Homo sapiens: one gene and its partners. The protein of the gene in region 3 purifies or fractionates together with the protein of the main gene of each other region. This does not show direct contact. Each region holds a gene or a part of one and is shown on either strand. Other genes may lie near its edges.

Evidence for each region.
Region 1: the proteins of SFXN1 (region 3) and TMEM126A fractionate together in Homo sapiens (co-fractionation; one large-scale study listed by BioGRID). This does not show direct contact.
Region 2: the proteins of SFXN1 (region 3) and DDI1 purify together in Homo sapiens (affinity purification with mass spectrometry; 3 studies listed by BioGRID and IntAct, with this or other methods). This does not show direct contact.

The regions. Positions count from the first base shown.
Region 1 is NC_000011.10:85,650,869-85,654,141, forward strand, and holds part of TMEM126A (transmembrane protein 126A), read left to right. Parts: intron 1-3,194; coding exon 3,195-3,273. UniProt on the Homo sapiens protein: Protein required for the cotranslational protein quality control in the inner membrane of the mitochondria.
Region 2 is NC_000011.10:104,034,981-104,038,815, forward strand, and holds the start of DDI1 (protein DDI1 homolog 1), read left to right. Parts: upstream 1-1,659; 5' UTR 1,660-1,842; coding exon 1,843-3,033; 3' UTR 3,034-3,835. UniProt on the Homo sapiens protein: Probable aspartic protease. Seems to act as a proteasomal shuttle which links the proteasome and replication fork proteins like RTF2. Required, with DDI2, for cellular survival following replication stress.
Region 3 is NC_000005.10:175,502,560-175,506,059, forward strand, and holds part of SFXN1 (sideroflexin-1), read left to right. Parts: intron 1-3,500. UniProt on the Homo sapiens protein: Amino acid transporter importing serine, an essential substrate of the mitochondrial branch of the one-carbon pathway, into mitochondria.

The DNA of each region.
Region 1 (3,273 bases), on a different chromosome or scaffold from region 3:
GACCAGCCTGGCCAACATGGTGAAACCTCATCTCTACTAAAAGTACAAAAATTAGCTGGGCGTGGTGGCAGGTGCCTGTAATCCCAGCTACTTGGGAGGCTGAGGCAGGAGAATTGCTTGAACCAGGGAGGCGGAGGTTGCAGTGAGCCGAGATCACACCACTACACCCCAGCCTGGGCGACAAGAGTGAGGATCCGTCTCAAAAAAAAAAAAAAAAAAAAAAGATATTAAAGAGAAAAACCAATATAGGGAACATACTAATCTTTGCCAGGCAGCTAATGTGTACTTCCACAAAATGTCTTACACTTTGTTGACAGTCAAGAAGGTCTCTCTGACTATAAAAGGATGAAAAGCAGCCACCTGGGAAGGAGAGAGGGACAGTGTCTTAAGTAGAGGGAATGGCATATGCCTAGCCACAAGATAGCCAAGGCTTGTGGTACTTGAGTAACCATTGTTACCGAAGTACTAAGGAAGTGGGAGTAAGGACCAGGAATAGTTTTGAGCAGGGGGATGATGTTAGCATTTCTAAAGAACATTCCAGCTGCTTTTTGGAAAGCAGATTTGAGGTAGGAAAGAAAGGAAACACAAATACCAGTAGAAAAAATGGCACAGTAATCCTGGTGAGTGGAGATGGTAGGGGTGGTGACAGCTGAGATGAAAAGAGGATGCATTTAAAATACATTCTGGAAGCATAATCTTGCTATCTTCAGGAATAGAAACTGAACAAATCCCCATCTTGCTGCCACTTACCATCTTAATCAGGGAGAACCCATAAATCAAGACCAGTAGTGTTCAGAACAAGGATCTCCAAGGGGAAGAAAAAAAAGGCCAGTAGTAAGAACTTGGTGAGATCTTAAAAGCTCTTTCACCCCCCCTCCCCACACTCCAACTCCACTCCCTTCTAGTTGTTTTCCTGAGGTAACGGAAAACCTTTTAAAGCAAAAAAGGAACTATGTCCATGTTTCCAGGCCAGCAAGATAGGGAAAGTGAGAAAGACTAATAAAAGAGTAGTAGGCTGGGCATGGTGGCTCACACCTGTAATCCCAGCACTTTGGGAGGCGGAGGCGGGCTGGTCACCTGAGGTCAGGAGTTTAAGACTAGCCTGGCCAACATGGCGAAACCCTATCTCTACTAAAAATACAAAAATTAGCCAGATGTGGGGGCACGTGCCTGTAGTCCTACCCACTGGAGAAGCTGAGGCACGAGAATTGTTTGAACCTGGGAGGCGGATGTTGCATGGAGCTGAGATCATGCCACTGCACTCCAGCCTGGGCGACAGAGCAAGACTGTCTCAAAAAAGAGTAGATGGTGGCAGCTTTGAAGAGAAGAAAGCAGTCTGTCACTGGGTTCTTTACCAAATTAGAAAGAATACCTGGAACTGCAAAGTAAAATTTAGTTTAGAGGCAATAAATGTTTCAATCATTGGCATCTAAACTAGGCAGATTACAGTGTCCTGTTATCTTTGCCTTGTTCCTATTTTTTCTCTTCATTCCCATTTTATTTTCTAAGTTTAAATCTTCATTTCTTCTTGGATTATTAATCAGGTATTTAATGGTTACTTGGCATGTCCTTCAGTGTATGGAGCTTTCTTAATATCAAAAACTTCATTTTCTGATCTACAGCAATACTTTCACGTACATGTTTGTCATTTGTTAAATTTGGGCTATTTCATGTCTATTTCTTGTGTATGTCTTATCAAAAAGTCATGAGTTTTTAGTTGGTATAGGTACTTTTTTGGAAAACTGGCAAGGGGCTGCTAGGTAACAATTTTGTGCTAACTTTTAATTAACTAAACATTTTGACCTTAGCTATGGGAAAAATCTGGTTGGGAGAGAGCAAAGTTTGCTATGCAGATTTCACTTGTACTACTTTTTATTTATTTGTATATGTAACATACTTGTAAACAAATGGACTTATATATAACATGTATATATGTATTTTATATATATTATATATACATACAGGCAAATTGTTTACCTGAGCATTGGGATTTAAAATGGGGATAATATACATTTCACATGATTTTTATGATGAAATATTTTAGAGGAAGTGTTCAAGTTTTTTATTCCAACCCCCACAAAAAAAAAATAGGCTTTTCACATTTACATGGTTTTTGTGGTTGGTAGGTTCTCCAGACTGTCATCACTAATTATAATCTATGTACTCCAAGTTCCTGAACTGCCACTGTCTTGTACCACCATTACCATTTTCATAGACTTCTGTTATATCTCGTTTACATCTCTTTCTTCTCCAGTAATATTTAACTATGTTAACCTTGAAGATAGAAGGTAATTTTTTGTGCCTTTAGCACTAAGTCTGCTGCATACAGTGGGGTTCTCAATGAGTGACAGGCATCATGATTGCAAAGTGTCAGATAAGAAAAGCAATACCTTATACAACGTAGGAAGCTGAGTTCCTAGAAAAGCTATTTTAAGATGAGTGTAAGCCATAGAAGTTAGAGGAGGTACTCTGTGGCTACTTTGGCTAGTTAAGAGTAATGAAAATCTTAAGACTGTATTGTAGATGGCAATGTAAGTGGTAAAAAAGCTAAGTCGTAGTCTGAAAAGTTTGGAGTCAGTATTTTCAATATTCAGCAATCATGTTAGGTATTACTTTTTCCCAAAACTAAAGAATGCATAGGACATAAGTTAAAAGTTCATACATAACCTGGCTTCAAATCCAGTTCTACCACTACCTGAAAACATCAGTTTATTTCTCATCAATGGGTTGTTATAAAGTACCTAGCATAGGGTATTGCTTAAATGTTAATACTCCCAATCCTGACACTAATGTTTCAGGGAAGAGTGAAAGAAATCACATTAACTCCACATTATTGAACATCTTCTGTGTCAGGCTGAATACATCTTTGTATCCATTGTCTTCTGGTTGTTTAAAGACTAGTGTAGAAGCCTGACATGTAAATCGGTGATTATATAAGATAGTACTGTCTTGTAATGTGTTGTGCTAGAGAGGTTAAGTATTAATTATTATGGGAGCTCAGGAGAGGCACCCACTGGCTGCTGGGAGAAGAGCAAAAACCTATATATAAAGCAATTTTTAAGATTTTGGTTCTATAAGGGATAGATGTCGTATCCAGTTAGTGTATTCCCAAAGTCCTATAACACATGTCAAGATCGGGAAAGCTCACACACACAATAATGCCAAAGAAAAGTTCTTTCTTCTCACCCTTTCAGGAATCTACTTGAAAATGGATCGGTTTATGTTGGATTAAATGCTGCTCTTTGTGGCCTCATAGCAAACAGTCTTTTTCGA
Region 2 (3,835 bases), on a different chromosome or scaffold from region 3:
TGCAAGGATTTCTACCCAATCATCATTTGCCTTGAAGGACTTTTCACCATGACAGCCTTGTATGTGTGTGTGTGTAAGTGGGGGTGGGGGAGAGTAGGGAGAAGGTGGCTGTGCCCAAATGTCAGAGAGAGGCATATTGGCCTCTAGGGTGGCATCCTTAATGAATTTTCCTACAGAACTGATGTCAAATGGGTCACCTCAAAGGTTCATCTCACTCATTCATTCATTCCCCTTCAAGGCAATGGCCCATCTACCCTATATCCCATTTTAGAGACCCTCTGTGTTATCCACACATTCCACTTTTTTACACTCCCCACCTCCAAGGGGTATGCACACTCTGTCCATTTTACTCAAGAAACATGTTTATTCTCTACTGCTTTGGCTTTGGGCCTCCTGACTTTCCACACTCTAGCAACAGCTCCCTCTTTGAACCACTGGAAAAGCCTCCTGACTGGCCCTCCTGCCACATTATGTCCTCCATGTGTTGCAAGAAGCCTCTTCCTTAAGTCAATTTAAAAAAAAAAATCACAAACACCTGCTTCAAATCTTTTCCCTTTCCTTTCCTTCCTTACTTCTTTTTCTTTTTTTTTTTTTTTTTTTTTGGAGGAGGAATTCTTGCTAATTGATAATATTTAATATTTAAACTCCGTAGATTCACATATGACTTCATCAATTGGCTCAACTAATTTTTTTCCAGCTTCATATCCTGGTATTCAAAGTCATGTACAATTTTTTTATTGCACAAAATGTCTCATCTTTCTCTAGAAATAACAGCCCTTGCCATAAATTCCTGCTTTTGTAACATGAAACTGCTTTCCTTTGGAGTGAGACCACTTTGCACCTGGAAGATGCTCATCCTTCAACATCCAGCTTGTCTCCTCCTTAGGAAAATATCCTCTGTTCTGTTGGTGATACTAAAGGCAGTACCCTGAACATGTCTTTGTAAAAGATTTTGCCTTTAGTATTGTGATTACCCATTCACCTGTCTATCCCTTTCCAGAAATGTGAGCTCCTCAAGGGCAGGCTCCAAATCTGACTTTCCTACTATGCACATAGAATGGTACTTGCCATGTAAGAAACAAATCCTTACTGTTTGGGGAAAAAACAAAAGTACAAAGAATACAACTCTAAAATGAACAAAACAAATGATAATATGCTGTTTAGAAAGTGTTGAAAAACTAGGCATGGTGGCTCACACCTGTAATTCCAGCACTTTGGGAGGCCGAAGTGTGGGGGATTGCTTGAGCCCAGGAGTTGGAGGCCAGCCCGGACAACACAGTGAGACCCCAAATCTATTAAAAAAAAATACAACAATTAGCCGGGCATGGTAGACTGTGCCTGTAGTTCCAGCTTTTCAGGAGGCTGAGAGAGGAGGACTGCTTGAGCCTACGAGGTCGAGGCTACAGTGAGCTGTGATTATGCCACTGTACTCCAGCCTGGGTGACAGGATAAGATCCTGTCTCAAAAAAAAATGTGTTGAAATCATTTCTTTCATATCATGTGTTAAATAGGCTTTGAAGGGCTGGCCTTGAAACCTGACAGCTTTGAGCCATCGTGTATCCATGGGAGTAGGCATTCTAGGTTCCAAACAGCACACTTAGAAATGGACTTTGGAACACAACGTGCTACCTCAAGGCTCCACCTGGCCACACAGCAGGCACTGAGGCTGGGAGACAGCCCCCAGACAGATGAGTGTCCGCGCCTCTCTGAGAGGTGAATGAGCCCGGACGGTCCCTACCTACCAAGTCCTGAGGAGCAGCGGCACCAACGACGCAGGCCCGCCCCAGCCCGCCAGTGAGCCGCCCATGCCCTCTGCTAGCCCGGCCCGCCCGGGCCCCCGCCATGCTGATCACCGTGTACTGCGTGCGGAGGGACCTCTCCGAGGTCACCTTCTCTCTCCAGGTCAGCCCCGACTTTGAGCTCCGAAACTTCAAGGTCCTCTGCGAAGCGGAGTCCAGAGTCCCCGTCGAAGAGATCCAGATCATCCACATGGAGCGACTCCTCATCGAGGACCACTGTTCCCTGGGCTCCTACGGCCTCAAAGATGGCGATATCGTGGTTTTACTGCAGAAGGACAATGTGGGACCTCGGGCTCCAGGGCGTGCCCCGAACCAGCCTCGTGTAGACTTCAGTGGCATTGCGGTGCCTGGGACGTCCAGCTCCCGTCCACAGCACCCTGGACAGCAGCAGCAGCGCACACCCGCTGCCCAGCGGTCACAGGGCTTGGCGTCAGGAGAGAAGGTGGCCGGCCTGCAAGGTCTGGGCAGCCCCGCCCTGATCCGCAGCATGCTGCTCTCCAACCCCCACGATCTGTCCCTGCTCAAGGAACGCAACCCTCCCTTGGCGGAAGCCCTGCTCAGCGGAAGCCTTGAGACCTTTTCTCAGGTGCTGATGGAGCAGCAAAGGGAAAAGGCCTTGAGAGAGCAAGAGAGGCTTCGTCTCTACACAGCCGACCCACTGGATCGGGAAGCTCAGGCCAAAATAGAAGAGGAAATCCGGCAGCAAAACATTGAAGAAAACATGAATATAGCGATAGAAGAGGCCCCCGAGAGTTTTGGACAAGTGACGATGCTCTACATTAACTGCAAAGTGAATGGGCATCCTTTGAAGGCTTTTGTTGACTCGGGCGCCCAGATGACCATTATGAGCCAGGCTTGTGCCGAGCGATGTAACATCATGAGGCTGGTGGACCGACGGTGGGCTGGGGTTGCTAAAGGAGTGGGCACACAGAGAATTATTGGCCGTGTTCATCTAGCTCAGATTCAAATTGAAGGTGATTTCTTACAGTGCTCTTTCTCCATACTTGAGGATCAACCCATGGATATGCTTCTAGGCCTAGATATGCTCCGGAGACATCAATGTTCCATCGATTTGAAGAAAAATGTGCTGGTCATCGGCACCACTGGCACGCAGACTTATTTTCTTCCTGAGGGAGAGTTGCCCTTATGCTCTAGGATGGTAAGTGGGCAAGATGAGTCTTCGGACAAGGAAATTACACATTCAGTCATGGATTCAGGACGAAAAGAGCATTAAAGCACGTTATAAATATGTTACCACCTTGAGGGAGCCTCAGGTCCCCGGCAATTATAAGTTAAGAGCTTACTGGCAATGTAATCATTAAAAAACATCAGTAACAACTAAACCTGGCCTTGGGACTACGTTCTCAGATGGGTAACTAACGTCAATCCTGATTCCTTGGTCTTGGTCCCTCTTCCATTTCCCTTGTCCAGAGATCACTGAAAGGCATCCTGGGAAGGCTCTGGAGGCTCCAGCTGATTTCCAGATAATCCATGAAAAAGAAAACCAGCTTCTTCCTTTAGAGACACTATCCTATCAGATTACAGGTGGCTTATCCAAATCATTGCTATTTTGCAGAATTCCCTGGAAAAATGCTATGGCTGCAGACCTTACAAGGCATCCACATAAAACTATTTCACATCAGCACTAATAATTCTTTCTACTGAGAGAAATATGCCCATTTTCACAGGTTTTGTTTTCTTTGGGAAGGGTATTAGAAATGGTAGGTCAGTTACACTATGATGTTAACTAATACTTATACATGTCTGTTTGGGGCAGCATAAAGACCAATTTCCTCATATTTACACCTTCCCTTCCCCTGGATCCCCTGCAGTCACCCTGCAATCCACAGCTAAAGACTATTTTTGCCATATTTGAGAAAGTGGATTTATCTCCAAGGATGCTACATTAATTTTCTATTTCTCCTGCATTCAAAGAAACTCTGGCTATAAAACAAAGGCAATAAATTAGATTTTTTAAAAAAGAAATTATGGTACTTCTTGGGAGTCAAGTTGTACAGTGGTGGGAATGAGAGGTG
Region 3 (3,500 bases):
CCGGGCACAGTGGCTCATGCCTGTAATCCCAGCACTTGGGGAGGCGGAGGCGGGAGGATTGCCTGAGCTCAGGAGTTCAAGACCAGCCTGGACAACATGGAGAAACCATGTCTCTACTAAAAATATAAAAAATTAGCCGGGCATGGTGGCACATGCCTGTAATCCCAGCTACCTGGGAGGCTGAGGCAGGAGAATCGCTTGAACCCGGGAAGCAAAGGTTGCGATGAGCCAAGATCACGCCATTGCACTCCAGCCTGGGCAACAAGAACAAAACTCTATCTCAAAATAATAATAATAATAATAATAAATAAATAAATAACTGGTACATCCATCCATCGAACAGATTAACCAACTCATATAAACAACAGGGTGCTTCTCAAAAGTGTTATGCAAAGTCAAAGAGGTCAGACACAAAATACACAAAATATGTATCTACTCACTGTATGATTCCATTTGTGTGAAATTCTTGAAAAGGTAATATAGTGTTAGAAAACAGATCCATTGGTTGGCAGGAAGTGAGGAAATAACTCCAGAGGGGCCCAAGGGAACTGTTGGAGACATGGAAATATCCTGTACCACAATTCCGGGGCGGTTACACCACTGAGTATATTTTTTCAAAACTTAGCAAATTGGACACTTAAAGTGGATGACTTTTATGGTATTTAAATTATACCTCAATAAAGCTGATTTAATTTTAAAATGTTACAAGATCATAGAAAAAAAGGAAATGCTTCCCGATTCATTGCAACCCTGATACAATAAATGATTTAAAAAATACAAAAAGAAACAGTGGCCTGTCTTACAAATTGATAATGCAAAAATCCAAAGTAAAACACCAACACATAGCATCCAACCTTGTGTTAAAACATGAACTGGTAGAATTTATTCCGAGAATGAAAAGGTGATTTATATTTAGGACATTTATTAGTGTAATTTATCACATCAATATGTCAGAGCAAAAAAGCCACATCTTGATAGATGCCCAAAAGAAGGTAAAATTATATATCTATTTCCCATAAAATAATTAATCAGCTAGGCATAATGGGTGGTACTTCTTTAATTATGAAGAATGCATATCCCACATCAGTAGTGAGCAATGCACGAAATAATGGAACACTAGAGCTGAACTTCCCAAAAAGACCTCTAAAGGAAAGGAACCCTGGCCGGGCGTGGTGGCTCACGCCCATAATCCCAACACTTTGAGAGGCCAAGGCAAGTGGATCACCAGAGGTCAGGAATTCGAGACCAGCCTGGCTAACATGGTGAAACCCCGTTTCTACTAAAAATACAAAAAATTATCCAGGCATGGTGGCACGCACCTGTAATCCCAGCTACTCGGGAGGCTGAGGCAGGAGAATTGCTTGAACCTGGGAGGTAGAGGTTGCAGTAGCCGAGATTGCGCCATTGCACTCTAGCTTGGGAAACAAGAGTGACACTCCATCTCAAAAAAAAAAAAAAAAAGGGATCCTATGGAATACTTAAAGAAAGAAAAGAGGGGGGTGGGGGAAGGGAGAGAGGGATCAAGAGAGGCAGAGAGAAAAAGGGAGAGGATTTTGGTAGTCAAATTTGAGAAAGTTTGCATTCCACTCTTGAGAATGTCACATTCTATTAACTGTTCGAAGTTTCCAAAAAGTCCAGGAGTGAAAATAAAGCTGCTTAATCATTTTTCCCAAACTTGGACATGAGCCCTTTGTTTTTTTTCCATAATGTATGTAATATGTATGAGAATACTCGGCCAGGCGAGGTGGCTCACGCCTGTAATCCCAGCACTTTGGGAGGCCAGGGCAGGCAAATCACCTGAGGTCAGGAGTTCAACACCAGCCTGGCCAACATGGTGAAACCCCGTCTCTACTACAAACACAAAAACTAACCGGGCGTGGTGGCGCACACCTGTAGTCGCAGGTACTCCAGAGGCTGAGGCAGGAGAATCGCTTGAACCTGGGAGGTGAAGGTTGCAGTGAGCCAACATTGCATAACTGCACTCCAGCCTGGCAACAGAGCAAGACTCCATCTCAAAAAAAAAAAAAAGAAGAGACCATAACCAACTGAACAACCATAGAACAAATTAAAATACAATGAGGGGGCTATTTATAATAGACACAATGGTAGTTTCCTGTATAAAAGCAACAAGCAATTAGACATTGTTTTTTATTCACTTCATAAGAACAATTTTTTTTGGGCGGGGAGGGTGCGGAGTCTTGCTCTGTCGCCCAGGCTGGAGTGCAGTGGCGCGATCTTGGTTCACTGCAAGCTCTGCCTCCCGGGTTCACGCCATTCTCCTGCCTCAGCCTCCTGAGTAGCTGGGGCTACAGGCGCCCGCCACCACGCCCAGCTGATTTTTTGTATTTTTAGTAGAGACGAGATTTCACAGTGTTAGCCAGAATGGTCTTGATCTCCTGACTTCATGATCCACCTGCCTCGGTCTCCCAAAGTACTGGGATTACAGGCATGAGCCATCGCACCCGGCCAGAACAATTTTTTAAAAATGTAAAGTACTTGGGAAGAAACGCACCCAGAAATTTGCGTCAATGATGAAAACATTTGGAATCATGTTAAGTTTGAGTAAATGGAGAAATGTGCAGTAGGCCTGGGGAGAAAGGCTGGAGATTGTAGAGGTGTCAGTTGTCTCCAGATTAATACGATTTCAGTCAAATTACAACTGTGGTCACCTGTAAAACTGATAAAATAATTCTGACCGGGTGCAGTGACTCATGCCTGTTATCCCAGCACTTTGGGAGGCCGAGGCAGGGGCATCACCTGAGGTTAAGAGTTCAAGACCAGCCTGGCCAACATGGTGAAACCCCATCTCTACTAAAAATACAAAAAAAAAAGCTGAATGTGGTGGCGGGTGCCTGTAATCCCAGTTACCCAGGAGGCCGGGGCAGGAGCATTGCTTGAACCCAGGAGGCGGAGGTTGCAGTGAGCCAAGATCACGCCATTGCATTCCAGCCTGGGCGACAAGAGTGCAACTCCATCACAATAATAATAATAATAATAATAATAATAATAATAATTCTAAGGTTTATCTGGGAGAATAAATTAGTATAAGGCATCTTAGAAAAAGAAAAAGAAGAATAGCGTGTGGGACGGTTGCTCTACCCAAGATTAAAATTGACTGTCAAGTTAAAATGGTGGGTATTGGCATCAGAATATGTAGATAAGTGGAAACACAATAGAAAGTCTAGAAATCAAGGCTGGTATTCACAAACTCTCAACTGATGCAGGCCAGCCAAAAGAGAAAGTTAAGAATGTTTCACATTTTCTTTTCTTTTCTTTTGAGACTTAGTTTCATTCTTGTTGCCCAGGCTGGAGTGCAGTGGCACTGTCTTGACTCACTGCAATCTCTGCCTCCCGGGTTCAAGCAATTCTGCCTCAGCTTTCCGAGCAGCTGGGATTATAGGCGCCTGCCACCATGCCCAGCTAAGTTTTATATTTTTTAGTAGAGATGGGATTTCACCATGTTGGCCAGGCTGGTGTCAAACTCCTGACCTCAGGTGATC